7 linked regions of the Homo sapiens genome follow. The protein of the gene in region 1 purifies or fractionates together with the protein of each later gene. This does not show direct contact. Each region holds a gene or a part of one and is shown in the gene's direction. Other genes may lie near its edges. The genes, in order: CDHR4, CLSTN3, MRC2, GUSB, TSEN2, DNAJC16 and SKIC3.

Region 1 (4,157 bases):
GCTCCTTGACTGCCAAATGACTTCCAGCTGAGGTGCCGGTACTGGTGATGGTGACACCCATCAACGAGTTCTCCCCAGCCTGTGCCCCTCGCACGTTCCGGGTTCAGGAGGATGCGGCGCCCCACACTCTACTGGGCTCCGTGGTGGGCACGGATATGGATTACCCTCATGACAACATTGAGTACTACACCTCTGGTGGTCCTACCACCTTTGCTGTGGACCGTCTCAGCGGTACATCCACCCCAGGGCTGGGATGGAAACAGGGAGCCAGAGTTGGCCCTGCAGGCTGAAGCTGTGGTCTCCCCCTCTAGGGGAAGTTCACCTCCTGGGACCTTTGGACTATGAGCAGCAGAGGCTGTACAGGCTCACTGTCCTTGTGATTGACCATGGCCAAGACCAGAACCCCAACCATCACCTCTCAGGCTCCTGTACCATTACCATCGAGGTTGAGGTAATTGCGTCCTAAGGCTTTGGAAATAAATACTTGGAAAGACAGGAGTTCAGATTGCCCTGTGGTGTTCTGCTTTTCCACTCTGTGCCTTGGTTTCTTCCACGAGTTGGCTGGAGAAGAGTGGGGCCTAATTGAAAGCTCTGGAGCCTGTTGTGTGATGACTTCATCACTTGATGCCTAGGCTACGGCTGTGGTGAGAAGAAGTTGAGGGGCTGGCTCAGAGGTTTAGGGGGTGGGTTCCACCCACTCCTAACCTGGTTCCTTTCTGCAGGATGTGAATGACCATGCCCCCGAGTGTGAGCCCCCATTTCAGGAACTCACCATCTATGCTCCTCTGGGCCGTAGCGTGGAGGTGACCAAGATGTCATGCCAGATCCCTCAGGAGCCACAGCGCCTGATCTACTCCTATAGCATCGTGGGAGGTAGGGGACATGGGCACCACCAGGTTGTGAGTGAGGGGCAGGCCAAGGCCAGCAATGGTCTCTTCCTCCTGTCATTCTGCTTTCAGGGAATAGCCAGAACCGATTCATCCTGCAAGGGGCCATCCTGGTGCACAGTGACCTTGTGTTGGGGCCGTTCTGGCCAGAGCAGCCCCGTACCTATGAGCTACTGATCTGTGTGGCCGATGCAGGCCCCTCCACCCCCCACCTCAGCACCACAGCCACCATTATTGTGCATCTAGTTCCCCGGAGGGCCAGCACAGTGGCCACCAGCACCCACAGAACCACAGTGAGGAGGCTCCTTGGGCCCTCAGCAGGGTGGGAAGGGTGGACCTTGGAGAGTGAGGAGACCCAGTTTTTCAGGTGGAACTATGGGGAAGGCAGTTCAGAGGGAAGCGCAGAGTGCGGAGAGCCCAGCAGTGTTGAAGAGCAAATCATGGGTGTGGGGTGGCTTAGCCCGGGGAAGGGTTGGAAGGCTGGATGGTCAGGGCATTTTGGCAAGGCAGTGGTGAGGCTGTGGCCTCCTTTTCAGGTGCCCTCAACGATGACACCCATGCTCGTGACAGACACAGAGGCTTTCTGGCAGCCACAGCCCTGGTTTGTGGTGGTGTTGACAGCAACTGGTGCTCTTCTCCTCTTGGCCCTAGGCTGGCTTCTTGGCAGGCTCCTCCAGGGGTAGGGATCCTATCCTTGTGCTCCCTACTTGCCCCCAACCCACCTATGGACCCCAGTTGTGATGGGTGGTTTCACCCAAGATTAGATGACAATGCCCAAGTAGGTGGGTGACGAACTGATATTGAGGAGGGCTACTCTCCCTCCAGAGGTCTTTAGATTAGGGTCAGAGAGACACTGGGAGGAAGCAACTTCCATCACCGGCAGAATCCAGTCTTGGAATGGGAGGAGGGTAGATAAGCTCAGGGCTTGAAACTGTGAGTCTGTCATACATTGGGCATTTACCCCTATTCCTGACTTCTGCCCTCCACTGGAAAGCTTTCCTGCTCCTGTAGACTCTGAAGTTCCTTGTGGACATAGGACTGAGCCCAGGGAAAGGGGATGTAACAATGTGGGCACTGCATACAGACATTGGTTGTTCCCAATATAAAGGAATGGGTGAATGGTGCTGATTCCTGGAGCCAGTAGGCCTGCTGCCCTCACTGCTTCGTTACTCCTCCTGGCATTTTAGGTTGGCCCAGCTGCTGCAAGCACCCAGCAAACCAGCCCAGGCTTTGCTGCTAAACAGGTCAGTCTCCTTTGCATACTTCTATGCCTGGGATCCCATCTCTTAAACTCAGGTTAGGGCCCAGAGCCTTGCCCTGTACTCTTGCTCGTACTTTGCCCCAGCATCCAGGGAACTGAGGGATCCATCGAGGGTTTCCTGGAGGCACCGAAGATGGAGATGTCCCAGGCACCCAGCAGTGTCATGAGTCTGGTATGTCAGCTCACCATCTCAAGTAGTGGACACCAAGGGTGCTTCAGAGTACTCCCCTGCCCCCTCCAAGCCTTTTTTCCCATGCCCCTTTTCCGATGAATGGGTATCCTTGTGGAAATGCCCACACTAGCACCATCAGAATGGAGGAGGCAGGTGGGCTTCTGGCCCCCTAGGGGCAGGCCTTCATCTGCTCCCCTGTGGGCAGGGTTCAATTCATTGCATCTTTTTTTTTTTTCCCTCAGCAGCATTTTGATGGCAGAGCACAGGACTCCCGTGAGTCCCCCTCTTCCTAAGCTATTCTCTGCCTGGGCCCTCACCCCATCTGAGTATCTCCTCCTCTCTTTACCCCATCTCAATATCTCCTCCTACTCCCAGGAACCCACCATCTATCTGCTTTTTTCCTGAATGGGGTCTGCTCTCATCCCCGCTCACTCTTCATCCATCCTTTGTCAAACGTCTAGGGGGTCAGGAGATGACTCATATCTGGTCTGGTCTCTGCCCACAACGGGAGGAGGGATGATGGTGAGGGGAGAGGCCTCCAGATAGTCCAATGTCACCAGTGATTTATGGGAGAGTAATCTGGTATTGCCTTAGGGAAGCTGGTGTCCAGTGTTGGAGAATCAAGGAGGCTTCCTGTGCATTTGAGTCAGAGTTGAGAGAATTTGCTGAGAAGGGAGGGAGGGGACAGGTTAGATTCCAGCGAAGGTGGGATGTCACACTGAGGGTCCTGGAGGAATAATCTCCTACCCTTAAGTAAGGGGGAGGGAGGCAGTTCTTCTGGGGCCAGCAGCACCCCCTGCTCTCCTCTCTCTCCTACCGGTTTTAGGTACCGGAAGAGACTACCTGTTTAACACACACACAGGAGCCCGGCGCTGGCTCTGAGGCCAAGTAGCTGTCTTACTATGTGTGGAATTTCTTTTTCACACCATCATGGGCTGTATTTTCAAGTTGATTCATAATAAACAAAATTACAAAAAGAAAAGTTCTAGCCTTGTAGCCAACGTGTGGGAGAAGCTCTGAAATCTGTGCCTCCTTGTTCTCACTTGGACAACTCCCTACCTTGTGAGCAGACTCTAGGGAGCAGTAAGGTTTTCCTTTTCTCTTTCAGGGTTTTTTTTTTTTAGACAGGGTCTCACTATGGTGCCCAGGTTGGAATGCAGAGGCTATTCATAGGTGTTATCATAGCACACTATAGCGTCTAACTCCTGGCTTCAAGAGAGCCTCTCATCTCAGCCTCCTGGGTAGCTGGGACGATGGGCGCACCACTGCACCTGGCTTTATTTTTCTTTTAAGAAGGTATTGTGTGATGCTCAGACTGACAGTGTGACTGATGCTCTATAGAAGTAATAGGCTATCATCCTTGTCAGTGACTGAGGGGCCTCCAATCAGCATGTCTCCTCAGGGCCACCTGCTTCCTTTTCCTATCCAGAAGAGAGAGAACAATGCTGCGTGTGTGTGTGTGTGTGTGTGTGTGTGTGTGTGTGTGCGCGCGCGCGCGCGCATGTGTGTGAAGGAGAGAGGGGGCGGGGAGAGGGAGAGAGGGGGAGAGAGAGAGAGAGAGAGAGAGAGAGAGAGAGAGAGAGAGAGAGAGAGAGAGAGAGAAAGATAGGGTCTGGCTGTCTGGCTTTGTTGCCCAGGCTGGAGTGCAACGGTGTGATTGTGGCTCACTGTAGCCTTGACCTCCCAGGCTCAATCGATCCTCCTACTCAGAATCCCAAGTAGGTGGGACTACAGGCATGGACCACCATGCCTGGCTAATTTTTAATTTTTTTGTAGAGATGGGATCTCTCTATGTTGACCAGGCTGGTCTTGAATTCCTGGGTCCAAGCCATCCTCC
Region 2 (4,336 bases), on another chromosome or scaffold:
GATGGGGCTGACCTGCTCTACAGCTTGTGTGGCGTCAGCTGGTGGGAGTCCAGGAGAGAGGGTCCTGCCCAGGTCCTGCCTCCACTGGCCCCTGCCCTGAGGTGCTTCCTCATCTCCAGGGGTGGAGAGCATCACTGTGTATGAAGAGATCCTGAGGCAGGCTCGTTATCGGCTGCGACACGGAGCTGCCCTCTACACCAGGAAGTTCCGGCTTTCCTGCTCGGAAATGAATGGCCGTTACTCCAGCAATGAATTCATCGTGGAGGTACCCAGAGAGTCTCCTTCCTTCCACAGTTACCCACCCCCAGAAAGGAGCTGAGGTGGCATGGACTCAAAATGTTAGTTGGTGGGCATGGACATGGCAGCGTGGAGGGCTGCTGGACCTTGCAGTGGGTGGAGGAGAAGGAGATGGGGGCAGTAGTTAGGAGATGGGGCTGGGGTCTAGAGAAGTGGGGAGGACCTGGGAGAAGCGTGTGTGCCCATGGAGCCCTCCCTCTGCCCAGGTCAATGTCCTGCACAGCATGAACCGGGTTGCCCACCCCAGCCACGTGCTCAGCTCCCAGCAGTTCCTGCACCGTGGTCACCAGCCCCCGCCTGAGATGGCTGGACACAGCCTAGCCAGCTCCCACAGAAACTCCAGTACGTAAGCCTGGTGGGGCTGGGCAGGGAGGGGCAGGTGGCAGGTGAGTGTGTTGGGACAGGTATCCTCCCCCTCCACCTCTGGGAGAGGACAAGGTAGGTGGAGCAATGGGTTCTGTTCCCTGTGGTACCTGCCTTAGTTGACAGCTATGGACCAATCCCTCTCTCCCTTTGGATCATTCACTTTCCCTTGTGAAGAACATGAGCCTTGTGTCATTGTAGGGATGCTTATGCCTGCAGTCATAAAGTCAGTGTGGGTTTAGGCGTGTTTGTTATACCTGATGATGCCTCCTTCCCCAGCCCCAAGCAATATCAAATTAGCCCTGGACCTAGGATCCTCTGTGGTGAAACTATCAAGTATTTACTAAGCACCTACTATGTACTAGCACTGTCCTAAGATGATCTAAATGATTTATAGGATAGATCAGTCCCTATCCCCAAGGAGAGAATTGGTACTATTACATGTAAAATTATGTGCTACGTATGCAGTCACAAGAATATTTCTAAAAAATATATGCAAATATGCAAAGCGTTACATTCAGATGGAGTGCTGCCCTTCAAAGCTGCCCTTCAAAGCAACCTGGCCGTGGTCCCAAAGGTTCCCGGTCATGGTCCTTTACGAATGGTGCAATTTTATTTTCAACTTTTGAGTTGCGTAATTGTAGAAAAACCAGAAAATATCAAATATTTCTTTTAAAGAAGAAAAATCAGGCCAGGCACAGTGGCTCATGCCTGTAATCCCAACACACTAGGCTGAGTCAGGAGGCTCACTTGAGTCCAGGAGTTTGAGACCAGCCTGGGCAACACAGTGAGACTCTGTCTTTACAAAAAATAAAAAAAATTAGCTGGGCATGGTGGCAGGTGCCTGTAGTCCCAGCTACTTGGGAGGCTGAGGTAGGAGGATCTCTTGGGCCTGTGAGGCCAAGGCTGCAGTGAGCCATGATCACACCACTGCACTCCAGTCTGGGAGACAGAGCAAGGCTCTGTCTCAAAGGAAAAAAAAAAAAAAAAAAGAAAGAAGAAGACGAGGAAAACTCAGCCATAATTCCGTCAGAGAGGAAACCACTGATAATATGAGTATTCTGTTCCAGTCTTTTTTCTATGCTTAATTTTTCCTTTTTAGAAAGTTAGGATTAGCCTATTTTGTAACCTGATATTTACACTTCATATTATAAAACAAGTATTTTCCCACATTATTAAAAATTGCAAATGATGCTGATGTTGTTGAAAGTGATTTTTGGAACCCCTTCTTAGAATTGCTTTCAGAGCCAATTTATGAGGTGCATTTATTTTTGTTATTTTTTGGACATAACTTGCTTTTGACCCTGTTCAGTGTTACTCAACTTCATCACCCAGTTTTGCCAAAGTTGAATCTGGATATAATTTTAAGTTTTTAAACATTAAACCCACTCTCAAAGGCCATAGATCGGTCACCTTTGAAAAGAGTCAAAAGGTTGTGTCACAGGCTTTTGAGAATTGAAGGCAATTCTCAAAGGAGTCCACTAGTGCTTTCTGGGAAGAAATTTGTGGTCTCTGAACACTATGTGAAAGTACAGAACTTATTTCAATATATGTGATGGGTAATAATAATTATAACAAACACAGGGTGCTCTCATCATGTGCCAGGCACTGTGCTCGGGGGATTACGCTTATTAACTCATTTAGCCATCATAAACAACCAATGAAATGGGTACCAGAATTATCCCCTTTACAGGCAAGGACACAGAGGCACAGAGAGTTCAAGTGCCTTACCCAAGTTCACGCAGCTAGAAAGTAAGTGGAGCCAGGATTTAAATCCAGGAGGCATGATTCCAGTCTGTGCACTAACCATGGCCCTCACCCTTCTCCCCAGATGTTTGATGCTTTAAAAAAGATTAGTCTTATTACTTTAGAGTTGCATATAATTAGGGGGAGCCCCTGAGGGGCTTCCCAGGGTTTTCTGACTGAGGCCAGCTCCTCTGATGCCCCCAGGGATTCAGTCTGGCTTCCTCTCCTTGTGCAACGGCCACCACCTACACTGTCTCTTATTTTATTTTATTTTATTTTTCTGGGACTGGCTCCCTTCTTCCTTGCTGTCCCTGAAAACAACCGCAGAGGCTTTTGGGAGGGAGAGACAGGGTCTTGTTCTGTCGCCTAGGCTGGAGAGCAGTGGTAATCCTAGCTCACTGGAGCCTCGAACTCCTGAGCTCAAGCAATCCTCCTGCCTTAGCCCCCTGAGGAGCAGATGCATGCCACTATGCCTGGCTATTTTTAAGACTTTTTATAGAGACAAGGTCTCACTTTGTTGCTCAGGCTGGTCTTGAACTCCTAGGCTCAAGCGGTCATCCTGGCTCAGCTTCCCGGAGTGCTGGGATTACAGGTGTGAGCCGCCGCACTTGGACTTGCAGACGCCTTTTTCAGTGTTCTACTGTGATTCACTATAGCAAGTAGGTGGAAGTGAGGATTAGCGGGGAATATAAGGCATAACCAAGCTGCAAAGATTAGAGAAGTTTCACATAGTATTTAGTCAATAGAGACATGTTAGCAAGCTAAACCTATTTATTTCAAATAAACTCTTGAGGCCAGCTATAAATTTTTTTCCTTCTTGTGATTCCATAGCACTTTCTCCAGTTCTTTCATTGGGGATCATTCCACTCAATCTTTTCTGGTTGGATACTAGGTCCTGCTACTCTGATTAGGCTCAAGGTAGATAGGGGTGCTGCCTGGCCTGGTGAGATTCTCGATCCTTACTTTCTTTGGTATAAGGCCCCAGGTGAGAGACTTCTTGTTCTAGGAGCCCAGCACCTTCTCCCCTGAGTGTCCAGCTGCCCTGCATGGGCTGGTCTGGCGGGCAGCGTTTCTCACCCCTCAGCCCCTGGAGGAGTGTCTGTTCACGGCACCCTTTCACCTCCCCTCGGTGAAGCCCAGTCTCCCCATCCTTTGTTCTGAGCTCATGTCCAGGCTGATCAAGCTTCCCTCAGATTTCAGTTGAGAGCAGCAGTTTTCCTTTGCTTCTTCTCTTATTTTGACCTGAATAGGACACAGAGTTCGTAGCTTCCCTGAGGGCACTGGTGATTGGCATGCCTGAGCTGACAGGCCATTCACGGCATAAAACCCTTTCCATATGCCTTTTCTGACTCCGCAAGGTGCTCCCTCCCTTTCACCTACAAATCTCGAGTGGTGTTGCAGAACTGTGGTTTCACAATATCAAACCATTCTAAACATGCAGAAGCAGTGAGAGGTACGATCTCCTCCAGTGGCACGGAGGCCCATTGCTCTAAATCTCCTAAGTGCACTAGAGAAAGAGAGATGAATGTGAACTGGAACCAGGGTAAACTGGAACAGTCAGGGGAGATTTTGTGGCACATGTAGAGTTTGCATTTGGACCTGAACTGTAAAAGGGATTTTTGGATGGGTGTGAGAGAGAATGGGAATTTGAGAACCGGGGGTAGATAGGTGGTTAAGAGTGTTTATGGTTAGAGAGAATAAGGTTGGTTGAGAAGAGCAAGCCGGATGATGAGGGTATTATGTATCTACTCATATCAAATTTTGATGACTGCCAGAATCACCTGGGGAGCTTTAAAAACTCTCGGCACCTAAATTATACCCTAGAATGTCTAGGGGGTGGGAGCCACGTGTCAGTGGTTTTTAAAAATCCCATGTAATCTTTAAAAGTTTGGGAATAATTTTCCTCTTTTGTTTCCTACAAGTATCTGAA
Region 3 (4,336 bases), on another chromosome or scaffold:
TTAATTTACTTTTGTAAAAATTGCAAAATACATGCTTGTAAAGTCTTCAAATAGTATACAAGTATATAACATAAAATTAAATGAAAATTCCCTTCCCCCAGGCCCACTCTCCAGGTGAAACCCCATTGTAGCCCCCCATGTTGTCTTAATGCCTGTCTTGCATGTGGTGAATGGGGACCAGAGTCACCATGTGAGGGGCTGGCCTCTTGTGGTGGACAGCCCCGTCCTGGGGGGGCCTTTCCTGGGAGACCCCCTGAGTTCCGAGATAGAACTTTGTGGGGACACAGAGCCCATGGGCTGGGTAGCTGAGCAGAGATTCCACCGGGCTCAGCCCTCTGTGGGTGACTTGGAGGCCCTCTTGCCCAGCTGGAGTTTGGATGGGATTAGGGGTACTAGGGAGCCCCTTCCCAGCCCTATGAGGTGTGCAGCAAGACCTCTCTCTGGTTCCTGGGCTGACTCAACAGCAGAAGAAGCCTTAAAGCCACTATGGGGTGCCATTGCCTCTCCCACCTGCTGATCCCTGTGAACACCCAGCACTCTGGGTTTTAGGGGATTTCTCCTGAGGGTCGAGGGGCTTGGCAGCCTCTGGTGTCCAGATGCCAAGGGCCTGGCCCCTGTCCACCCCCTGCAGAGGTCTACACCATCCAGGGAAACTCCCACGGAAAGCCGTGCACCATCCCCTTCAAATATGACAACCAGTGGTTCCACGGCTGCACCAGCACGGGCCGCGAGGATGGTCACCTGTGGTGTGCCACCACCCAGGACTACGGCAAAGACGAGCGCTGGGGCTTCTGCCCCATCAAGAGTGAGAGCTGTTGGAGCCGTGGGGGCGGGGGCAGTGTTCCTGGAGGGAGGCTGGTGCTGAGGGGCCCCGGGGCCCAGGGTGAGATACTGCCCCCTCCCCTACCTAGTGTAGCCTTTTGGTGGGGGAGGGTCTGCACTCCCGAGGGACCCTGGAGGGGGCCTGAAGGAGAGGGCTGTCGTGGTGGCAGGTAACGACTGCGAGACCTTCTGGGACAAGGACCAGCTGACTGACAGCTGCTACCAGTTTAACTTCCAGTCCACGCTGTCGTGGAGGGAGGCCTGGGCCAGCTGCGAGCAGCAGGGTGCGGATCTGCTGAGCATCACGGAGATCCACGAGCAGACCTACATCAACGGTGAGCCGGGGCCTGATGCCTGCTCGTGCCTCTGGAGGGCCCGGGCCCTTTCCGCTTGTGGGTTGGGGAGAGGGCGATGGGGAGCGGGGGAGGCTGGGGCTGGGGATCCCCTGTTCAGTGTCCCTCCTTGCTGTCAGGCCTCCTCACTGGGTACAGCTCCACCCTGTGGATCGGCTTGAATGACTTGGACACGAGCGGAGGCTGGCAGTGGTCGGACAACTCGCCCCTCAAGTACCTCAACTGGGAGAGTGGTGAGGCACAAGGTTGGGGGCGCAGGGCAGCATAGGGGCCCCGCGGGCTCTTGGCCTCCCATGGACTCCTCTCCTCATGTCCTCCTGCAGAGGGGCAGTGTGGGTAGGGGAAGCACCGACCTCCACCCCCCTCCCCAGACTGCGCCCCCCTAGCCCATGTAGGGCGGCGCTGCCCCAGGCCGAAGGTCTTGGTGCATATGGACTGGGTGCCAGCCTCCACTCACCTCTTCAGCCACCCCTGTGGGCAGCGGGCACCAGCGCACCCAGCAGCCTGGACGGGGAGGCCGGGGCGGGGCTGGTACTGGTTACTGGGTAGAAGGTTCAAGGCGACGTGCACCCAGGTTAGAAAGCGCGGAGGACCCCGTGGTCTGGGGCGGAGCTGGAGCTGAGCACCAGGCTTCCCGAACTGGCTCAGGCTTCCGAGGGAGCAGAGGGAGGTAGGAGGTTCTGAGCAGGGCCCCGGGAGCCACGGTGTGAGCTTCTCTCTCCGGGGGTGCTGGCGCCCTGCCCTCCCCACAGACCAGCCGGACAACCCCAGTGAGGAGAACTGTGGAGTGATCCGCACTGAGTCCTCGGGCGGCTGGCAGAACCGTGACTGCAGCATCGCGCTGCCCTATGTGTGCAAGAAGAAGCCCAACGCCACGGCCGAGCCCACCCCTCCAGGTGAGCCAGGGACTGTGCCGCAGGGTGGGGAGGGGCTCCCAGGGCCAGGGACACAGCCACAGAGCCGTGGCAGGCCCAGCCTCTCCTCCGGTTACCACCACAGCACAAGGGGACTCTGGATCCTCTGACTCTTATTTCATTGTTCAGTTAAAGTCTGAGCAAATTGGAATATGTCATTAATTCATTTGGGGAACATGTGCTGAGATCTGTGTTAAATGCTGGCAATACCCACTGTTACCTCGTAGAGACCACAGTCTGCTGGAGGTGACAGACATCTCAATGCAGTTAGACTATCCCAGGTCATGAGTGATTATAGAAATATGGATCAGTGTTAGAGGAGCATAGAGAAGAAACTGATTCAGCTTCTGAGAGTTAAGGAGGGGTTTATGGAAATAACATTTGATTTGGGCCTTTCAAATTGAGTCTAAGTTTAAAAGATATAAAGAGGTGTGGGGGAAGGGCATTCCTGGCAGAGGGAAGAGCATATGCAAAGGTGTGGAGGCCTAGAACTACACTGCAGCTTTAAGGGGTGGTGAGTGATGGCCGGGCACCGTGGCTCACACCTATAATCCCAGCACTTTGGGAGGCCAAGGCAGGAGGATTGCTTGAGCTCAGTAGTTCAAGACCAGCCTGGGCAACATAGCGAGACCCTGTCTCTGCAAAATATTTTTAAAAAATTAGCTGAGTGTGGTGATGCACGCCTGTCTACTAGGGAGGTCGAGGTGGGAGGATTGCTTGAGCCTGCAAGGTTGAGGCTGCAGTGAGCCTCGCTTGCACCACTGCACTCCAACCTGGGCAACAGAGCGAGACGAGACCCTGCCTCAAAAAATAAATAAATAAATAAATAAATAAATTTAAAAAAAAAAAGAAAAAAGAAAGAAAAAGAAAAAAATGGATGGTGCCTGTTGCAGTTTGGGTGGAGTATAGATTCTAACCACTTCAAGTATGGTCATCCAACCAGCAGCACAGCATCCCCGGAGGGCTTGTTAGAAATGCACAGTCAGGCCCGCCCCAGAGTAATTGAATCAGAACCTGCATTTAACAAGATCCTCAGATGATTCATGTGCAGACACAGTTTGGGAAGCCCTGGCTTAAAGGGCATGGTGAAGAAGAGGCAGGTTGCAGCCAGTCTCTGCAGGGTCTTGGCTGCTGGGCCAAGTTTGGGTGGGGCCAGGTAGGCTGTGGGGAGCCTTTGAAGATGTTTAAGCCAGGGAGTGTCTGGTTCTCGTTTGTGATCATAGAGACAGCTTTAGGGGCCTCGTGGAGGAGTTGGGGCAATGGACAGGGTCTGCTTTAGGGATTCTGCCCCTTACTGCTGTGTGGCCCTGGGCAAGCAGCTTAGTCTCTGGGGTGCAGAGTCCTCATTGCAAATGGAGAATGAAGCCACCCCCCTTGCAAGGTTGTTGTGAGGAAGGCTGGAGATCTGGCCTGGCACGAAGGAGTTTTTCTGTAGTTGGCTGTGGATGTTTACTGTGGTGTAGGTTGGAGGGGCTGTGCAGTTTCCTGCGAAGCTGTGGGGTGGTGAGGAGACTTTTACAAAGAAAATATGGCAACACACACACACACACACACACACACACACACACACACACAACACTAACTACAGACAGTAAAGAGTTTACAGAGCAAAACTTCTGCTCCTGACCATGGAAGTCTTGCCAATGATCGACTCAGGACTGGTTTTTTTGTTTGTTTGTTTGAGACAGGGTCTCACTCTGTCACCCAGGCTGGAGTGTAGTGGTGCGATCTTGGCTCACCACAACCTCTGCCTCCTAGGCTCAAGAGATTCTCGTGCCTCAGCCTCCTGAGTAGCTGGGATTACAGGCGGGCATCACTACTTCCCGGCTAACTTTTGTATTTTTAGTAGAGACGGGGTTTCACCATGTTGGCCAGGCTGGTCTTGAACTCCTGACCTCAGGTGATCTGCCCACCTCGGCCTCCCAAAGTGCTGGGATTACAGGCGTGAGCCACCGCACCCCGCCTTTTTATTTTTATTTTTATTTATTTATTTTTTGAAACAGAGTCTCGCTCTGTCGCCCAGGCTGGAGTGCAGTGGCACAATCTCCACTCACTGCAACCTCCGCCTCCCAGGTTCAAGCGATTCTCATCTCCAGGTTCAAGCGATTCTCATGCTCCAGCCTCCCGAGTAGCTGGGATTATAGGCATGAGTGTGCCACCACGCCCGGCTAATTTTTTTGTATTTTTAGAGATGGGGTTTCACCATGTTGCCCAGGCTGGTCTCGAACTCCTGTCTTCAAGTGATTC
Region 4 (4,336 bases), on another chromosome or scaffold:
GGTCCTACTCGGTCGTCACCGCCCTGCTCCTTGGAGTGACTTTTCTGGCCCTCTGCAGTCCACAGTGCTGCCTTGTGAAAGCTCCCTCAAGATCCTCTGTGACAGCCGGGCATGGTGGCTTACACCTATCATCCCAGCACTTTGGGAGGCCGAGGCAGGCAGATTACTTGAGATCAGGAGTTCAAGACCAGCCCAGCCAACTGGTGAAACTTCATTTCTACCAAAAATACAAAAAATTAGCTGGGCGTGGTGGCGCACGCCTGTAATCCTAGCTACTCGGGAGACTGAGGCATGAGAAGCACCTGATGGTGGGAGGCAGAGGTTGCAGTGAGCTGAGATCGCACCACTAACATTCTAGCCTGGGCGACAGAGCGAGACTCTGTCTCCAAAACAAAACAAAAGATTTTCTGTGAGAATGACTGCATCGGCCCCTCGGGTGGCAGCGCTTCTCCAGGGCAAGGTGAGGGGAAGCCCAGTGATGGGAGTGCTGCCTGGAGAGGAGTCAGTTCCAGTGGTGGGGGCCCTGGGCTTTGGCTGAGGGCTGTGCGTTGGCAGCTGCTGTGCCTCTCACAGCCCTTCCCAGCGGCGCACGTCATGAGTGTCAGTGTGGAGTCCCAGGCCTACCTCCTCTGGGCCACTTTGTGACCATGTTTCTTGCCTATGGCAGGGTAATTTCAGGATCTAAATTGGTACACTTGGACGTTCTCAGCCCCAGGAGGCAGCTGTTCCCGTTCTAGGTTTTTTTTTTTTTTTTTTTTTGGTAGAAATGGGGGCTTGTGATGTTGCCCAGGCTGGTCTCGAACTCCTGGGATCAAGTGATCCTCCCATCTTGGCCTCCCAATGTGCTGGGATTACAGGCATGAGCCACCGTGCCCTGCTAATTTTCTTACTACTATTTTTTGTAATGCTGCAGTCTTGCTGTGTTGCCCAGGCTGGTCTTAAGCCATCCTCCTGCCTCAGCCTCCCAGAGTGCTGGGATTACATCCCCCTTACCTTCTCTGCCAGAGGAGCCCCCGCAGTGTGTGAATGCTGAGTCATGCTGTCTACTGAGTGCTGAACGGGCTCTGCTGCTCTGGTCCTAGGCTCCGTATGTGGATGTGATCTGTTTGAACAGCTACTACTCTTGGTATCACGACTACGGGCACCTGGAGTTGATTCAGCTGCAGCTGGCCACCCAGTTTGAGAACTGGTATAAGAAGTATCAGAAGCCCATTATTCAGAGCGAGTATGGAGCAGAAACGATTGCAGGGTTTCACCAGGTAAGCAGTGTTGAGCTTTCTGCTTGTGTGTTCTCTCAGGGCAGAGATGTCACTCACCTCCTCCAGCCTGACCTGCGCCCACTGCACTGCTCCCCTCGCTTCAGCTTTGGGCTCTCCTCCCACGGCCCCGTCCACGTTCCCTCACCGCCAACAGCCAGGCCTGTGCCCCACTCACTTGGTCCTCAGAGGTGGCCTCCTTACTGGCTTTGTTTCCAGATAGCCTCCTATCACCCGTGCCCAAGTGGTCTTTCTAACAGATCCAAATTTGTATTTGTTTTTGAGACCGGATCTCTCTGTCACCCAGGCTGGAGTGTGGTGGTGCGATCACTGCTCACTGCAGCCTTAACCTCCTGGGCTCAAGTGATCCTCCCACCTCAGCCTCCTGAGTAGCTGGGACCATAGGCACATGCCAACACGCCTGGCTAATTTTTTTACTTTTGTAGAGATGGGGTCTTGCCATGTTGCCCAGACTGGTCTTGAACTCCTGGCCTCAAGTGATCTGCCTCAGGCTCCCAAAGTGCTGGGATTACAGGTGTGAGCCTCTGCACCAGCCACAGTTGAAAATTTTGGGAGTCCTGTCATTGGCTCCCCCAGGCCCACAGGACAAAGCCCTAACCTCTGGTCAGGACACTCAGTGTCCTCTGCTCTCTCCTGGGTTTTCATCCCCTTCTCCCCTCTATCCCAGCCACTGATCTGTTTCCACTGCCCTCGCTTGCTCTCCTGCTCTTGCTTGAGCTGTTTCTTCTGCCTGGAATGCCCATGTTGGCACCATAATCACCAACTAAAATATCCTTTTTCTTAATTTTCATATTTTAGATATAGGGTCTTGCTATGTTGTCCAGGCTGGTCTCAAACTCCTGGACTCAATTGATCTTCCTGCCTTGGCCTCCAAAAGTGCTGGAATTACAGGCATGATCCACTGTGCTAGCCTTTTTTTCTTTTTCTTTTTTTCAGGGTCTTGTTGTGTTGCCCAGGCTGGAGTGCAGTGGTGTCATCATAGCTCACTGCAGCCTTGAACTAAAGGGCTGAAGTAATTCTTCCACCTCAGCCTCCTGAGTAGCTGGGACGACAGGCATGAACCACCATGTGCAGCCTATTTTTAAATTTTTTTGTAAAGATGGAGTCTATCAGGCTGGTCTAGAACTCCTGGCCTTACGTGATTGTCCTGCCTCAGACTCCCAAAGTGCTGGGAATCCAGGCATGAGACACCATGCCCAGCCTGTCGTCATTTTTTTAATCTATCTCATTTTTTTGTCCTCCTCACCAAAGATATGTTGGTTTGTCTTGTGAGGTTTTTTTTTTCCTGTGGATTCCTGAACCCCATCCAGCCCCTCATTCCCACCCCAGCCAGCTCACACTTGTTTGTCACAGCTCCTGGTTGACACACAGGGAACAGCCACCCACAGTGGACTGCGCTGTTCTGTTTGCACCCTTAAATTTATCGTGCTTACAGAATGCCACTTCTGCAAACTAGTCAAGTAGGGGAAGTGGCTCTTGGATATATTTGCTTGCGCATCCTCTTTGAAAAGGTAACCAGCTCTGAATTCTTTTTTTTTTTTTGACACAGAGTTTCGCTCTCGTTGCCTAGGCTGGAGTGCAGTGGCGCGATCTCGGCTCACTGCAATGTCCACCTCCCTGGTTCAAGCGATTCTCATGCCTCAGCCTCCCGAGTAGCTGGGATTACAGGCATGCGCCACCACGCCCACCTCATTTTGTATTTTTAGTAGAGATGAGGTTTCACCATGTTGGTCAGGCTGGTCTTGAACTCCTGACCTCAAGTGATCCGCCCGCCTTGGCCTCCCAAAGTGCTGGGATTACAGGCATGAGCCACCGTGCCAAGCCCTAGCTCTGAATTCTTAAGAAACTCTTGAGAGGGTCTAGGTCAGTGCTGATAGAACCTCTGCAGTGCTGGGCATGGTGGCTCACACCTGGAATGCTGGCACTTTGGGAGGCCAAGGTCAGAGGATCTCTTGAGCCCAGGAGTTTGAGACCAGTCTGTGCAACATAGACCCCATCTCTACAAAAAATTTAAAATTAGTTGGGCATGGTTATGAGTGCTTGTAGTCCAAGCCACTTGGGAGGCTGAGGTGGGAGGATTGTTTGAGCCCAGTAGGTCAAGGCTGCATTCAGCTATGATTGCACCACTGTACTCCCACCTGGGTGACAGAGTGAGACCTTGTTTCAAAAAATAAAAAAAAACAAACTTGCAATGATGGAAATGTTCTATATTTGCACTGTCTGAAATGGTACACACTAGCTACACATGGCTACTGAGGTCTTGATATATGACTAGGATAACTGAATTGATTTAGTTTAATTAAATAAATTTTTTTGAGACAGCCTCACTCTGTTGCCCAGGCTGGAGTGCAGTGGCATAATCACAGCTCACTGCTCAACCTCCTGGGCTCAAGCGATCCTCCCTCCTTAGCCCCAAGTAGCTTGAACTGCAGGCGTGCGCCACCACACCTGGCTAATATTTTGACTTTTTGTAGAGACTGGGTCTCACTGTGTTGCCTAGACTAGTCTTGAAATCCTGGGCTGAAGTGATCCTCCTGTCTCGACCTCCAAAAGTGCTGGCATTACAGACCTGAGGTACCATGCCCAGCCTGGTTTGGTTGAGTTTAATTTAATTTAATTTTTATATATATATATATATTTATTAGAGACAGGGTCTCACTGTGTCACCCAAACTGGAGTGCAGTGGTGTGAACACAGCTCACTGTCGCTTTGATCTCTGGGGCTCAAGCAGTCCTCCAACCTCAGCCTCCCAAGTAGCTGGGACCACAGATGTGTGCCACTAGGCTTGGCTAATTTTTGTACTTTTTGTAGAGATGGGGTCTTGCTATGTTGCCCAGGCTGGTCTTGAACACCTGGGCTCAAGCAGTCCTCCCACCTCAGCCTCCCAAATTGCTGGGATGACAGACATGAGCCACTGCACCTGACTGAAAGACATATTTTTGCCTGTAGTGTAGTTTAGCCTTAAGACTGTACCAGCAGATAGAGGTGGAAAAGTAATGTGAAACGAATGTCAAATTACGTTTATAAATAAAGCAGCTGCTCATTAAGGTTGTTTTTTT
Region 5 (4,336 bases), about 37 Mb from region 1:
CAGGTGTTGAAGAATGTATCCGAACTTCATTCCTTTTCTATGGCTAAGTATTTGATTATATGGATAGACCACATTTTGTTGATCTGGTCAACTATTGATGGACATTTGGATGGCTTCCACTTTGATGCTATTATGAATAATACTGTTGTGAACATTCACATACAAATTTTTCCATGAACATATGTTTTCATTTCTCTTAGGTCTATACCTAGGGGTGGAGTTGCTGGATCATGTCGTAACTATGTGTTTGACATTTTGAGGAACTGCCAGACTCCTCCAGTCCTGTTCGATTTGAAGATGAAACTGGGCTTAGAGAAAGTGGGTTGTGCAAGGTCACACAATAATAATGGCGGCTTTGCATGTCTGGAAGGCCTACTGCGAGCCAAATTCCTGAGGGGTGTGCAGCCACATGAGCAAGAGTAACACAAGAACTTGGATTATGAGGGGTGTTTTGTCGCAGGGACCCTTCCATCCCACACACCTGGGTTGGAGTACAGAGTTCTTTCGATCAAGTGTCACAGCTAAATCTTGCCTTTTTTAGATGTGACAGCAGTCTGAGAGGGAAAAACGCTGAACAAATGAGGCAGACTAAAATACAACTCTTATTTGTTGAGAGAATTTATTAGAACTTCTTGAAGGTGGCCATTAAATCTTTTTTCATTTTTTTAAAATTCCGAATGTAATGTATATAAGTCAGCTGCTGAGCAGAGGTTATAAAAGTGAAAAATCCCATAAAAGTCCAAACCATTCCTGGAAGTCTTTCAAAAAGTGCCTTACTAGAGACCAACATCCTGCCCCCAAAAAGCAGTGTTTATTTTCAGTTTTAGAATAAATTATTGTCTCTCCAATTGAGTACTAAATGTGATAATTTAGTACTTGGGCTGAGGGATAAGTCAGCAAGCAAGGTAAAGCCTAGTCTAAATATGCTCTTAAGAAAATCTCTTAGGTTTCCTGTGAGCATGCAGTAGACGTGGTTTTGTTATAAACACTATACAGCAAGATGCATGCATAAATATAAAATGTACAAAGTAATGCTCAGTATGTAATTCCTTCAAGGAACCTTATTTAGAAATTAATCTAGCATGTTGCTGCTTAGAACAATGGCAATTCTAGGAAGGTTCCAACTTCCCGATTCTTCTTTTTCATGGTTATCTTTGTAATTGATGTATCATTTCCTCTAACTCCTCTTTAGTCTGTGTTTTTCTGTGTCCTCATATAATTCCTCAGCTTCTTCCTTGAGAAGTTGGATACTGATATCATCACACGTTGGATAAGCCTTTTCTTAATGGTCATGACACTCTTAAAGCCACTCACCTTCCCCTCCCTCAGTTTTGGCCACCTTCTTGACTGTTTCAGGCTTGATGGCATCCCTTGCCAATGGGATGCAAGTACTGAGTGCAGGAGCCACCTAAGTAATTAGTCTTATTTTTTCCCTTGTGAGGATTCGGAGTCATGTAGGTTAAACGTGTGTATGATTTGGCCGCACTGTATCTTCAAGCACCAGGTAAGCTCTCAGTTGAAATCAAGTCTAGACCTAGTACTGGGGGAGCAGCAGATTCAAGTTTCCCATCTCATTCCAGGACAGCTGCTCCTCGAGTGGAATGTCTTGCACCATTTACATTGTTTTCCCATGTATATGGTTACGTTTTCCTAGGTTAAGTGCATCTACTGTATCTCTGTGTCTGCATCACACAATATGTTCACATTTACTTCCCTCCTTTAGACATTAGTGGATAACAGCCAGTTCCGTTAGCTCCAACCTGCTTTCTGTGCTTCCAGCTATGTTATATACTTGTTTTGTCTCCTTGGATCCAATGTATGGCCCCAGAGGGACACGTACTGGCTTTGGCTTTCTGTTCTCCCTCATGGTGCTGGGTGCACAGTGGGTAATTCCGTTACTGCTCAATAACCCTTCACCGTCTGATTTTGAGAAAGAGTCATCAGACAAAAGTAGATAGACCCTGCCTGTGCTTTCAGCAGAATCTAGAGAGAGGGCATGGGCTTGGGAGTTCAACAGACCTGGGTCACCCGATGCCACCACACTCGGGGTCGTCTACAAATCTCTCTAACCTGAATCTGTTTCCTATTTGTAAAATGGTGTTGCTACTGCTCACCCTGTAATACTAATTATAGCTGATACATGAATGGTACACGCTATGTGCCAGGTACTGTTCTAAGCACTTTATGGATCTTAACTGTAAGATAGAGTCGTTCTTATCTTGATTTTGCAGGTGAGGAAACTAAATCACAGAGAGAGTCAGTGACTTTTGCCCAAAATCACACTGCTAGGAAGTGGTAAAGTTGATTCTGATGCTGATAGTCTGGCTTTAGAGTCCCTGCTTGAAGCCAGTAGCATTTGGTAGTATATAATCGACCCTTAAATAACTGCTGCTGTCATTATTATTTATTAATGTACTTTAAAAATTGGGAGCTGATTGACCCAATGTTTAGTGTGTATTGTAAGATCCTCTTGGAAAATGAAGTGCCTGCAAGATTTAATTTGTTGAGGACAGGGTCTCAGTTTTGTCTTTGTCTCCCCAGCACCTATGATTATTAGGAATTCCTGGTAGTAAATGTCTGTTGGGTGAGTGAAATGGAAGCACTCCTGGTAGACAGAAATCCTGTTGTGCTTGCTCTCAGGAGACCTAACATTGCAGCTTTGGGCATGTCACTAGGTCTCAGCGTTGTCAGCTGGAGTAGAAAGATTACCACTCATTTCCTGGGGTTTATTGTGGGGATTAATTGCAGTATTCTAGGTCAATATGATTTACATTGCTCACACAAACTGTTCTTACTGCTTTTAGTTTATTGCTTTATAAATACTCTATTTCTTCCCACAGACCACTAAGTTTTCTGAGCCTAGGTACAGATGTACTCACATTTTGGATCAAGGTAGTTATTGATTGTCTGTTTCTTTCTGTTTGTTGTCTACTCTTTAAAGAATACCTCCTCTGAAAAATGGCAGAAGCAGTTTTCCATGCCCCAAAGAGGAAAAGAAGAGTGTATGAGACTTACGAGTCTCCATTGCCAATCCCTTTTGGTCAGGACCATGGTCCTCTGAAAGAATTCAAGATATTCCGTGCTGAAATGATTAACAACAATGTGATTGTGAGGAATGCGGAGGACATTGAGCAGCTCTATGGGAAAGTAAGTGCAGGCAGCCTTGGTAAGATTACTTTCAGACAACCCTGAGCAAGCAGTCCTTTCCTTCTCCCCATCCCAGCCATACCCCCACACCAACCATGAACAATGTGTATTCTTTCCTTGCGGTTTGGTCCAGTTGTAGGAAAAGTACAATTTGAATTAGTGCCCAAAAGCCATATGTTAGGGTAATAGAATGACAGATGGAGCACCCCTGCCCACAAACCTTTATTTCAGTGATGAAGTAGGTTCAATGGATTGACTATTTTTTTTGTCTTTAGTTGTAAAAGCAATGCATGTTTGTTAAAGGAACAAAAAAAGTAATTTACAGAAATGTAATGGGTAAAAAAGTGAAAATTCCCCACTCACTCCCATCCCGTTCCCAGAGGTAGCCACAGCGTGGCATAGTGTCCCTACTCAGGCACGGATCAGATGGGGCTTTGGCATGGAGCTCCTTATCTGCTGCCTCCTGGTTGGGGACCTCTTCTCAGATGAGGACAAGTTCTAGTTTTTACTGTTTTCCAGCATTGATCAAGTTGAATGAAGACTGGTAGTTCTTTAAAAAAAATTTTCCATAATCTGTTCATTGCTGTGGGCATTTTTAAAAAACAGCTTTATTGAGTTATAATTTACAACTATAAAGTCCTCCCATTGTAAGTATACAATTCAGTGATTGTCATAAATTTATAGAGTTGCACAACTCTCACCACAGTCCAGTTTTAGAACATTCCCATCACCACAGAGTTCCCTTGTGCCCATCACACTTAATCCCTGCTCCCACTCCCGGCCCAAGGCAGCCACGGAATGGCGTCTTGTCTCCATAAATGTGCCTTCTCTAGACACTTGATAGAAGAGTGGGTGGCACTGGCCATGGTGAGGCAGGAGTCTCAGTAGGCCAAGGGCAGCTCACCAGGGAGGCCTTCATTTACAGTATATAACATTAAGCAAGAGGCTTTATAAAGTGCTGTATGCATTATTTATTCTTGGTTTTTGTTGTTGCTGGGTGTTTTTTTTGTTTGTTTTTTGTGACAGAGTCTTACCCTGTCACCCAGACTAGGGTGCAGTGGCATGATCTCAGCTCACTGCAACCTCTACCTCCCAGGTTCAAGTGATTCTACCACCTCAGCCTCCCGAGTAGTTGGGACTACAGGCGCATGCCACCATGCCTGGCTAATTTTTGTATTTTTTGGTAGAG
Region 6 (4,336 bases), on another chromosome or scaffold:
CCATTTCCTGTCATAACAATGTCACCTTTTCAGTTGGCACTTCCCTGACCAACCTGTCTGATGGAGCCTGGCTTCTACCCACTCTGGCCTCTCTCTGTCCCCTTTTCATCTTTTTTTTTTTTTTTAATATATAGCACTTGTTGATACCTGTCATAATATATCTGTTTTCTGTCTTCCCCACTGGAATATAAGCTCCATGAGGGCAATAATATTGTCTATATTACCTGACATATACTAAGTGCTCAGTAAATATTTTTGGGAGAATGAATAGCTAAACTTTCCATTGGAACCTTGCAAAGGAAGCCGTTCAGAATGAGGCTCAGTGGCCTCTGGCCTGAGAGAGATTTGACCAGCCCTCCCTATACTGGAAGAACTAGGACAAATAGTTTCTAAAAGGCCCTGCCGGCCAGGAACAGTGGCTCACGCCTATAATCCCAGCACTTTGGGGGGCTGAGGCAGGCGGATCACTTGAGGTCAGGAGTTTGAGACCAGCCTGGCCAACATAGTGAAAACCCGTCTCTACTAAAAATACAAAAACTAGTTGGGTGAGGTGGTGCACGCCTATAATCCCAGCTACTTGGGAGGCTGAGGCAGGAGAATGGTTTGAACTCAGGAGGCGGAGTTACAGTGAGCCGAGATCACACCACTACACTCTCCAGCCTGGGCGACAGAGCAAGACTCCATCTCAAAAAATAAAATGAAAGGCCCTGCTGCATCAGAGATTCAGTGACCAACCCCTTAAATTCCTGGCAGGCACGATGGCTCATGCCAGTAATCCCAACACTTTGGGAGCCTGAGGTAGGAGGATTGTCTGAGGCCAGGAGTTCAAGACCAGCCTGGGCAATATAAACAAAACTATATATATATAGTTTTCATATATATAAAATTTCATATATATAAAATTTTAAAATTCGTAAATGTGGTAAAGAAGTTTGGTTTGGGAAAAACATCACAGATTGGGAAGAGAAACAGTTTGTTAATGACTTGGAAATCCTCCCTTAGTTGAAATGTCAGCTTTCACTGGGCACAGTGTATTCACTTCCATAAGATGAGCTCCTCGTCTTCTTCACCTTCACTTGCCATTATAGGTGCTGGCCCTGCCATCAGGGATTGGTTATAAAGTTTTGTCTTTTTGTTGTGCAGGTACTGTGTGGTTTTATTGACTGCTGAGACTACCAAGTTGAGCAAACCCTTTGAGGCTTTCCTGTCCTTTGCCCTGGCAAACACTCAAGACACAGTGAGATTTGTGCATGTCTACAGCAATCGGCAGCAGGAGTTTGCCGACACCTTACTACCAGACAGTGAGGCGTTTCAAGGGAAATCAGCGGTAAGCCACAGAGTCTCTCCTCATCCCAGGCTCTTCATAACCATGTGGCACTTGATTCTGTTTCCTTCTTCCTTGAGAGTGTTGAATACAGATTCTAGGAAATCTGAAACTCTGAAGCCTATTTTCAAAGTCTACTCTTTTGTTTTTCCTTTTTCTTGATTTTTTTTTTTTTCTTTTGAGACAGGGTCTCACTCTGTCTCCCAGGCTGGGAGTGCAGTGACATGATCTCAGCTCATTACAGCCTCGACCTCCCAGGCTCAAGTGATCCTCCCACCTCAGCCTCCCACATAGCTGGGACCACAGGCACACACAACCACGCCTGGCTAATTTTTTGTATTTTTTTGTAGAGATAGGGTTTCGACATGTTGCCCAGGTTGGTCTCAAACTCCCGAGCTCAGGCAATCCTCCCGCCTCCCAAAGTGCTGGGATTACAGGCATGAGCCACTGCTCCTGGCCTAAAGCCTACTCTTAAAACAGTTTTTGACCTGGTCTTTTTACATTCTGGATGTCAGCCTCAGGCCCCCACAGAAACCATGTTTTCTATCAGTGAACGGTAAAGGTCATCAGTGCTTTTCACCAGTTTTTTACTAAGGCAAGTCTGGTCTTGCAGCATCCTAGATCCTAGATTTTACAAATCCTTAGGCCACTGGTAATGTGCTCTGGAAATTTCTGCCCCCCTCTGCCTCTTTAACTTCATCCTGGTTGATCTCTCCTGCCTTTCTCCTGCATTGTCATCACTTCCTACAGAAACAAGAAATTCTCCTCTGACTTTTCATCATTTTCGCAATCATGGAAAATCTCTCTAAAAAACAAAGGTTTCCATTAATATTAAGTCAAGGTTATAGAGCAAAGTCTATTGAGAAAAAAGAGCTTTAACTTTTAACAAAAGCTTAGGAAAGTCACCATAAAAGTTATTTCTTAGGCCGAACGCGGTGGCTCACACCTATAATCCCAGCACTTTGGGAGGCCGAGGCGGGTGGATCACTTGAGGCTAGGAGTTTGAGACCAGCCTAATCAACATGGTGAAACCTCATCTCTACTAAAAATACAAAAATTAGCTGGTGTGGTGCACACCTGTCTGTAGTCCCAACTACTCAGCAGGCTGAGGCACGAGAATTGCTTGAACCTGGGAGGCAGAGGTTGCAGTGAGCCAAGATCGCACCATTGCACTCCAGCCTGGGAGACAAGGGCGAAACTCTGTCTCAAAAAACAAACAACTGGGCCAAGTGTGGTGGCTCACAGCTGTAATCCCAGCACTTTGGGAGGCCAAGGCAGGCAGATCACGAGGTCAGGAGATCGAGACCATCCTGGCTAGCATGGTGAAACCCCATCTCTACTAAAAAAAAAAAAAAAAAAAAAAAAAAATACCAAAAATTAGCCAGGCATGGTGGCAGGTGCCTCTAGTCCCAGCCACTTGGGAAGGCTGAGCCAGGAGAATGGCGTGAACCCGGGAGGCGGAGCTTGCAGTGAGCCAAGATCACGCCACTGCACTCCAGCCTGGGCGACAAAGCAAGACTCCGTCAAAAAAAAAAAAAAAAGCAAACAACTGTAACTTAACCATGCTTTTGAAACTTCTGATGTTTTTTCTCTACTTTTCTTCCAGGTGTCTATTTTAGAAAGGCGCAACACAGCAGGAAGGGTGGTGTATAAAACCCTGGAAGACCCTTGGATTGGGAGTGAGAGTGACAAATTTATCCTCTTGGGCTATCTCGACCAGCTGCGTAAAGATCCAGCTCTTCTGTCCTCTGAAGCAGTGCTTCCTGACCTGACCGATGAACTTGCCCCTGTGAGCATCGGGGCTGGGAAGGGTGGGACACCAGGAGGGCTTGTGAGTACACAGTGCTGGTGGCGGATTTCTGCTCAGAGCAGAGGTCCAGCAGCAGCACTGTGTTGCAGGGTAGAGGGACTCTCCCTTCCGGCTTTAGTCCTGACCATCATCCATTTTCTCTCTACATAGGTTTTTCTCCTTCGATGGTTCTACTCTGCTTCTGACTACATCTCAGACTGCTGGGATAGCATTTTTCACAACAACTGGTAGGGATATTGCCAGGCTGAATTTCTTTTTCTCTGTTAATACTGATATCACTGTTTTTCTTTTGAAAAGAGTTCATCATTATTAAATTTCAAGGTACACTTGATGGGGCAAGTGGAAGAACGTTTACACATTTTCTATTCCCCTTTTTCTTTCTTTCAGTAACTTCCCTTTTTTTTATTTTTTACTTTTTTTTTTTTTGAGACAAAGTCTTGCTCTTGTCCCCCAGGCTCAATCTGGGGATCACTGCAACCTCCGCCTCCCAGGTTCAAGCAATTCTCCTGCCTCAGCCTCCTGAGTAGCTGGGATTACAGGCACCTGTCACCATGCCTGGCTAATTTTTGTATTTTTAGTAGAGATAGGGTTTCACCATGTTGGTCAGGCTGGTCTCAAACTCCTGACCTCAGGTGATCCACCCGCCTCGGCCTCCCAAAGTGCTGGGCTTACAGGTGTGAACCACTGCTCCCGGACATTTTTTATTTTTTATTTTTTTTTGAGACAGAGTCTCACTCTGTCACTCAGACTGGAATGCAGTGGCACGATCTCAGCTCACTGCAACCTCTGCCTCCCAGGTTCAAGCGATTCTCCTGTCTCAGCCTCCCGAGAAGCTGAGATTACAGGCACCCACCACCATGCCCAGCTAATTTTTGTATGTTTAGTAGAGACAGTGTTTCACCATGTTGGTAAGGCTGGTCTCGAACTCCTGACCTCAGGTGATCCACCCACCTCAGCCTCCCAAAGTGCTGGGATTACAGGCGTGTGCCACCATGCCCGGCCACTTCCCTTTTTTTATATTGGCTGACTGACCCTTTCCCACTGGCTAGGAAAGGATCACCCATGGCTGCCATTCTGGGCAGCAGAGCCTGGGACTGTCTCTTCATCAGGGAACCTCTGGTGCCCAGCACAGGGCCTGACACACGTGGAGTCCAGTGTATAGATGTAAAAGGAATGAGTGAATTAACCTCAAGAGGGATACC
Region 7 (4,336 bases), on another chromosome or scaffold:
ACTTTTATAAGTCATTCATACATTTGGGAACTTCTAAAGTTATTTGTTTGCTTTTTGATTAAGGACTTATAGTACTCATCATATAAGACTATTTCGTTAGTTCTAGACTTCATTCTCGTTTCTTCCTTTTGCCCTCTTAGGTTATTACTACTTGATTATTATTAATTTGAGATTCCAAATTTTTTCCTTCAGGAAGTGTTCTGCAGATTTGACAAGAATAATTAAGGACACTGTTAGCTTCATGGTAGAGAATGTTTATTTGTTTCATTCAAAGAAAGATTCATATTTCATAATGAAACCGATTTCTTAGTGTTTTGAGTTAAAGCAATTTGAAAGTCCATAGTGAAAAAAACTATAACTGGTAAATTATGAATTATAGCATTATGCCCTAAAGATTTTTGTCAGGTAAAGACTATTACTGGTCTAAATTAAAATTGAGTTTTTAAATCAGTTTTATGTATTTCAAAGGGCTTTGTATTTCATAATATTTCTTTAAAATCAGAACCGTTGTCAGCATCTTTCAACAATTAATATTTTCTTGTTTTCTTTTTGCCATCCCACCAATAATGTGTTTTGTGTGAATGCTTTATAAAGGTTTTTCAAATAATGTTTTCACAAAAAAACAAATGACTGCTATTTTGGAGAACTAGCAGAGTCCAGGTCTGAGATAGAAAATGTACAAGATGAACCAAGAACACCTTGTCATGCTAGAAAGCAAGAAACTATAAAAGGGCTCAGACTACAAAAGGGCTCAAGAGCTAGCATAAAGAGATTCTTACTGGCTAAAAAGGGCGTTACTAATGTGGTATGTTGAAACAGATCAAATATTTTAAATCCATGTGTTCATGATGATTCAGAAAACTCAGCAAATGTCCTCAAGAAAACAAATGTTTGGGGGGATGCTAAGAACCCAACTATGAAGAATAAAGGCATTTATCCTGCCTTTATCTGAATCATTCCTCAGGATAATGAAATAACGAAGGTAGGAGAAATTTGCCTTTGTTGAAGTATTCTGTCTAATAAGAGAAAATGACAGAAAATCACCATTTTGCAATCCCCAGTGAATTAATAGATCTAGGCATCAAGGGTTAATGGCTACTAACATCACACAAAGGCAATCAGGCTGGGCACAGTGGCTCATGCCTCTAACACTTTGGGAGGCCGAGGCAGGTGGATCACTTGAGGTCAGGAGTTTGAGACCAGCCAATATGGTGAAACTCTGTCTCTACTAAAAATAGAAAAATTAGTCTGGCTTGGTGGTATGCACCTGTAATCCCAGCTACTTGGGAGGCTGAGGCAGGAGAATCGCTTGAAGCCAGAAAGCAGAGGTTGCAGTGAGTCAAGATCAGACCATTGCACTCTAGCCTGGGCATCGAAGCGAGACTCTTGTCTCTCCAAAAAACAAAAAAAAAAAGACAGTCAGACACAACCAAGTGCAAATACACCTGAAGACCTGAAGTATCCTTGGGAATCTTCAAACCTCTGAACCCAACTACTAATATACAGAAAATACAGGGAACCAAGGAACATGTTAAACACCTTGAGAATACGTTTAGCAAAATCCAGACTCTGAGAAACTGTGACAAATAGGCCATATTTTTCAACAGTTAAATTGTAAGGAAGAAAAAAAAAAGAGAAGGAGGGGGACCTTATTGATTAAAAGAGACAAGGCATTATCATTAAGTTCAAATGTATGTGTCTTATTTAGATTTTGATTTTTAAAATTGTTAAAATATGAGACAACTGAGAAATTTGATAGTGTTAAGGATGTTGTTTTTGTTTAGGTATGATAATGGTAATGTGGTTATGCAACTTAGAAATGAACTTTTAGATATAGATACTGAAGTATTACAGGTAAAAAGTTACAATATCTGGGATTTGTGTCAAAATCATCTGAGCAGAAGTGTGGTAAAATTAGTGGAGGTATAGATGAAAAAAATGATTGCTTGTGAGTTTGTGGTTTTGTAGCTGGATGATGGGTACATGTGGGTTTATTATACTAGTTTCTGTAATTTTTTTATGTATATGAGATTTTCCTTAATAAAAAGGTTATGAAGAGTGAAGATGTGTTATTAGTGATAGAAATCAGGACCTCTATTTCTTTATTCTATTAGGACCATGCTTTTCTGTGTTCGTTCGTTAATTAAAGCAAACATTGCTGTGGTTGTGTTGAAGGAGATTTATAGCAGTTCTTTACAATTATTTTCTAGATTTCTGATGCAGATAATATCCCAGGACTTTTGGTTCTCAAAAGCTTGGCCTATCGGAACAAAGGTTCATTTGATGAAGCTGCAAAGGTTGGCTTTTTTATTCAAACTGAGCATTTTTTGAGTTAAAAGCATTTTTATTTGGCTATAGAATTGACAGGTGTCTACTTTATAGATTATGGAAGACCTTCTCTCTTCTTACCCTGACCTAGCTGAAGTTCATGCCCTTGAGGCTTTGATTCATTTCACCAAAAAGGACTATCTACAAGCAGAAAAATGGTAAGGATATATAAATTGCTCATAGAACCATTTACATCTTAGTTCTTTATATTTCTGAAAAATTCAAAATGAGTAGGCTTGATGAAGATTTGATTTTTCATGAATTTGATCTTTGTAGGCTTTAAGTTTTAGTATTTTAAAGAAATGTATTTAGCATGTAGTACAGTAGCTATAAAAAATTATATGATGGGTTTCAAATCTAATTAGCTGATCTTGGCCGGGCGTGGTGGCTCACACCTGTAATCTCAGTACTTTGGGAGGCCAAGGCAGGTGATCTCTTGAGCGCAGGAATTCAAGACCAGCCTGGGCAACACGATGAAACCCCATCTCTACTAAAAATACAAAAAGTAGCTGGGCGTGGTGGCACATGCCTGTAGTCCCTGCTTCTCAGGAGGCTGAGGCACGAGAATTGCTTGAACCTGGGGGGTGGAGGTTGCAGTGAGCCAGGACCATTCCACTGTACTCCAGCCTGGATGACAGAGCAAGACTCGGACTCAAAAAATAAAAAAAAAAATCTAATCAGCTGATCATAATGTTCACTAAGCAGATGTAATGTTCAGTATAGTCTGAACACTTAGCACATGGTAGTGCTAAAAGGCCACTGTGCTTTTTTAAGATCCTCTTCTTCAAAAACAAATCACTTTTTTCCTTATGATAATATAAATCCTAAAGTGATGATTGGTTTCTAATTTGGCACCTCTGAATCACTCAAACTTTGATTGTTCCAACTAGGAGTCTCCTATATTGCGTGTGGGTGTGTGTGTATTTGTTTTACTATTTCTTTTTATTACCCTTTGGTGGCTTAGTTTTCAGAGAGCTCTTGAGAAAGATACCGAAGTTGCAGAATATCATTACCAACTTGGATTAACATACTGGTTCATGGGTGAAGAGACAAGAAAAGATAAAACAAAGGCTCTTACCCACTTTCTGAAGGTAAAGCAAGTGCTACAATTCAATTCCTAGTTGAAATGGCATTATAAAATCATAAATAATAATCATATACATTAGTTACAATTACTCTTTACTGAACTGTTTTTTGTGCTTTATCTTTCATATGTCAGGTTTTGTGATGGTGTTATATGGGTTTTCAAGGAAAAAATTAAAACATAAAATGTGAAAGTTACTTTTTGAAAAGCATGTGTTGTAGAAAACGAGACATAATTATCTCTTGTAAACAATACTTTTAAGGTAATTTTCACTGTAGTTTTATGAGCATACAAGTTAGATGTTTAAATTCCTGTTTTTTTAGATGTTTAACATCTATAAGTCCTACATTCTTATCTTGACTTGTAAGAGCAGATTAATTCAGTAGCAGCTCTAATTTCACATTTCCTTTACCAAAAAACAAAATATTTTTATATTTCCTTTTACTTTCTATAAGCAGTGAGGGACAGCTTTCCTGTCTGTTTTAAATCTTACATCAAAGGATTTTTTGGCATATTTTTGTATGTTTAATGAAATTATTTCTTTTTTCTTTAATCTGTGTATTTATCTTCTGTATTTGTAAAGATACTCATTAAATGAACTTTTAATGTTCTGTTATTATCAATATTTATTTCAAAGGCTGCAAGACTGGATACATATATGGGCAAAGTTTTCTGCTATTTAGGTCATTATTATAGAGACGTAGTGGGAGATAAAAACAGAGCTCGTGGATGTTATAGGAAAGCCTTTGAATTAGATGACACTGATGCTGAATCTGGAGCTGCAGCAGTTGACCTAAGTGTGGAGCTTGAAGATATGGTATGTCTAATAATCACTTTTGCTTTTTGTTTTTTTTATCCTGAGTATATAAATGAAAATATTTTTATATATGTATACTTGAAAGTTATCATTAGTTTTTTTTCTAT

What was found.
Region 2: the proteins of CDHR4 (region 1) and CLSTN3 purify together in Homo sapiens (affinity purification with mass spectrometry; one large-scale study listed by BioGRID and IntAct). This does not show direct contact.
Region 3: the proteins of CDHR4 (region 1) and MRC2 purify together in Homo sapiens (affinity purification with mass spectrometry; one large-scale study listed by BioGRID and IntAct). This does not show direct contact.
Region 4: the proteins of CDHR4 (region 1) and GUSB purify together in Homo sapiens (affinity purification with mass spectrometry; one large-scale study listed by BioGRID and IntAct). This does not show direct contact.
Region 5: the proteins of CDHR4 (region 1) and TSEN2 purify together in Homo sapiens (affinity purification with mass spectrometry; one large-scale study listed by BioGRID and IntAct). This does not show direct contact.
Region 6: the proteins of CDHR4 (region 1) and DNAJC16 purify together in Homo sapiens (affinity purification with mass spectrometry; one large-scale study listed by BioGRID and IntAct). This does not show direct contact.
Region 7: the proteins of CDHR4 (region 1) and SKIC3 purify together in Homo sapiens (affinity purification with mass spectrometry; one large-scale study listed by BioGRID and IntAct). This does not show direct contact.

Annotation. Positions count from the first base shown.
Region 1 is NC_000003.12:49,789,877-49,794,033, reverse strand, and holds the end of CDHR4 (cadherin-related family member 4 precursor), read left to right. Parts: intron 1-27; coding exon 28-231; intron 232-311; coding exon 312-451; intron 452-557; coding exon of another isoform or gene 558-632; exon of another isoform or gene 633-722; coding exon 723-873; intron 874-959; coding exon 960-1,180; intron 1,181-1,423; coding exon 1,424-1,566; intron 1,567-2,074; coding exon 2,075-2,131; intron 2,132-2,232; coding exon 2,233-2,320; intron 2,321-2,562; coding exon of another isoform or gene 2,563-2,565; coding exon 2,566-2,593; intron 2,594-3,146; coding exon 3,147-3,202; 3' UTR 3,203-3,302; downstream 3,303-4,157. UniProt on the Homo sapiens protein: Cadherins are calcium-dependent cell adhesion proteins. They preferentially interact with themselves in a homophilic manner in connecting cells; cadherins may thus contribute to the sorting of heterogeneous cell types.
Region 2 is NC_000012.12:7,150,425-7,154,760, forward strand, and holds part of CLSTN3 (calsyntenin-3 precursor), read left to right. Parts: intron 1-119; coding exon 120-265; intron 266-503; coding exon 504-639; intron 640-4,336. UniProt on the Homo sapiens protein: Postsynaptic adhesion molecule that binds to presynaptic neurexins to mediate both excitatory and inhibitory synapse formation.
Region 3 is NC_000017.11:62,665,463-62,669,798, forward strand, and holds part of MRC2 (C-type mannose receptor 2 precursor), read left to right. Parts: intron 1-631; coding exon 632-805; intron 806-992; coding exon 993-1,157; intron 1,158-1,294; coding exon 1,295-1,408; intron 1,409-1,927; coding exon 1,928-2,071; intron 2,072-4,336. UniProt on the Homo sapiens protein: May play a role as endocytotic lectin receptor displaying calcium-dependent lectin activity. Internalizes glycosylated ligands from the extracellular space for release in an endosomal compartment via clathrin-mediated endocytosis.
Region 4 is NC_000007.14:65,964,654-65,968,989, reverse strand, and holds part of GUSB (beta-glucuronidase isoform 1 precursor), read left to right. Parts: intron 1-1,082; coding exon 1,083-1,259; intron 1,260-4,336. UniProt on the Homo sapiens protein: Plays an important role in the degradation of dermatan and keratan sulfates.
Region 5 is NC_000003.12:12,486,843-12,491,178, forward strand, and holds part of TSEN2 (tRNA-splicing endonuclease subunit Sen2), read left to right. Parts: intron 1-2,941; 5' UTR 2,942-2,958; coding exon 2,959-3,147; intron 3,148-4,336.
Region 6 is NC_000001.11:15,560,999-15,565,334, forward strand, and holds part of DNAJC16 (dnaJ homolog subfamily C member 16 isoform 1 precursor), read left to right. Parts: intron 1-1,143; coding exon 1,144-1,327; intron 1,328-2,930; coding exon 2,931-3,113; intron 3,114-3,284; coding exon 3,285-3,361; intron 3,362-4,336. UniProt on the Homo sapiens protein: Plays an important role in regulating the size of autophagosomes during the formation process.
Region 7 is NC_000005.10:95,523,548-95,527,883, reverse strand, and holds part of SKIC3 (superkiller complex protein 3), read left to right. Parts: intron 1-2,210; coding exon 2,211-2,297; intron 2,298-2,382; coding exon 2,383-2,486; intron 2,487-3,292; coding exon 3,293-3,419; intron 3,420-4,049; coding exon 4,050-4,229; intron 4,230-4,336. UniProt on the Homo sapiens protein: Component of the SKI complex, a multiprotein complex that assists the RNA-degrading exosome during the mRNA decay and quality-control pathways.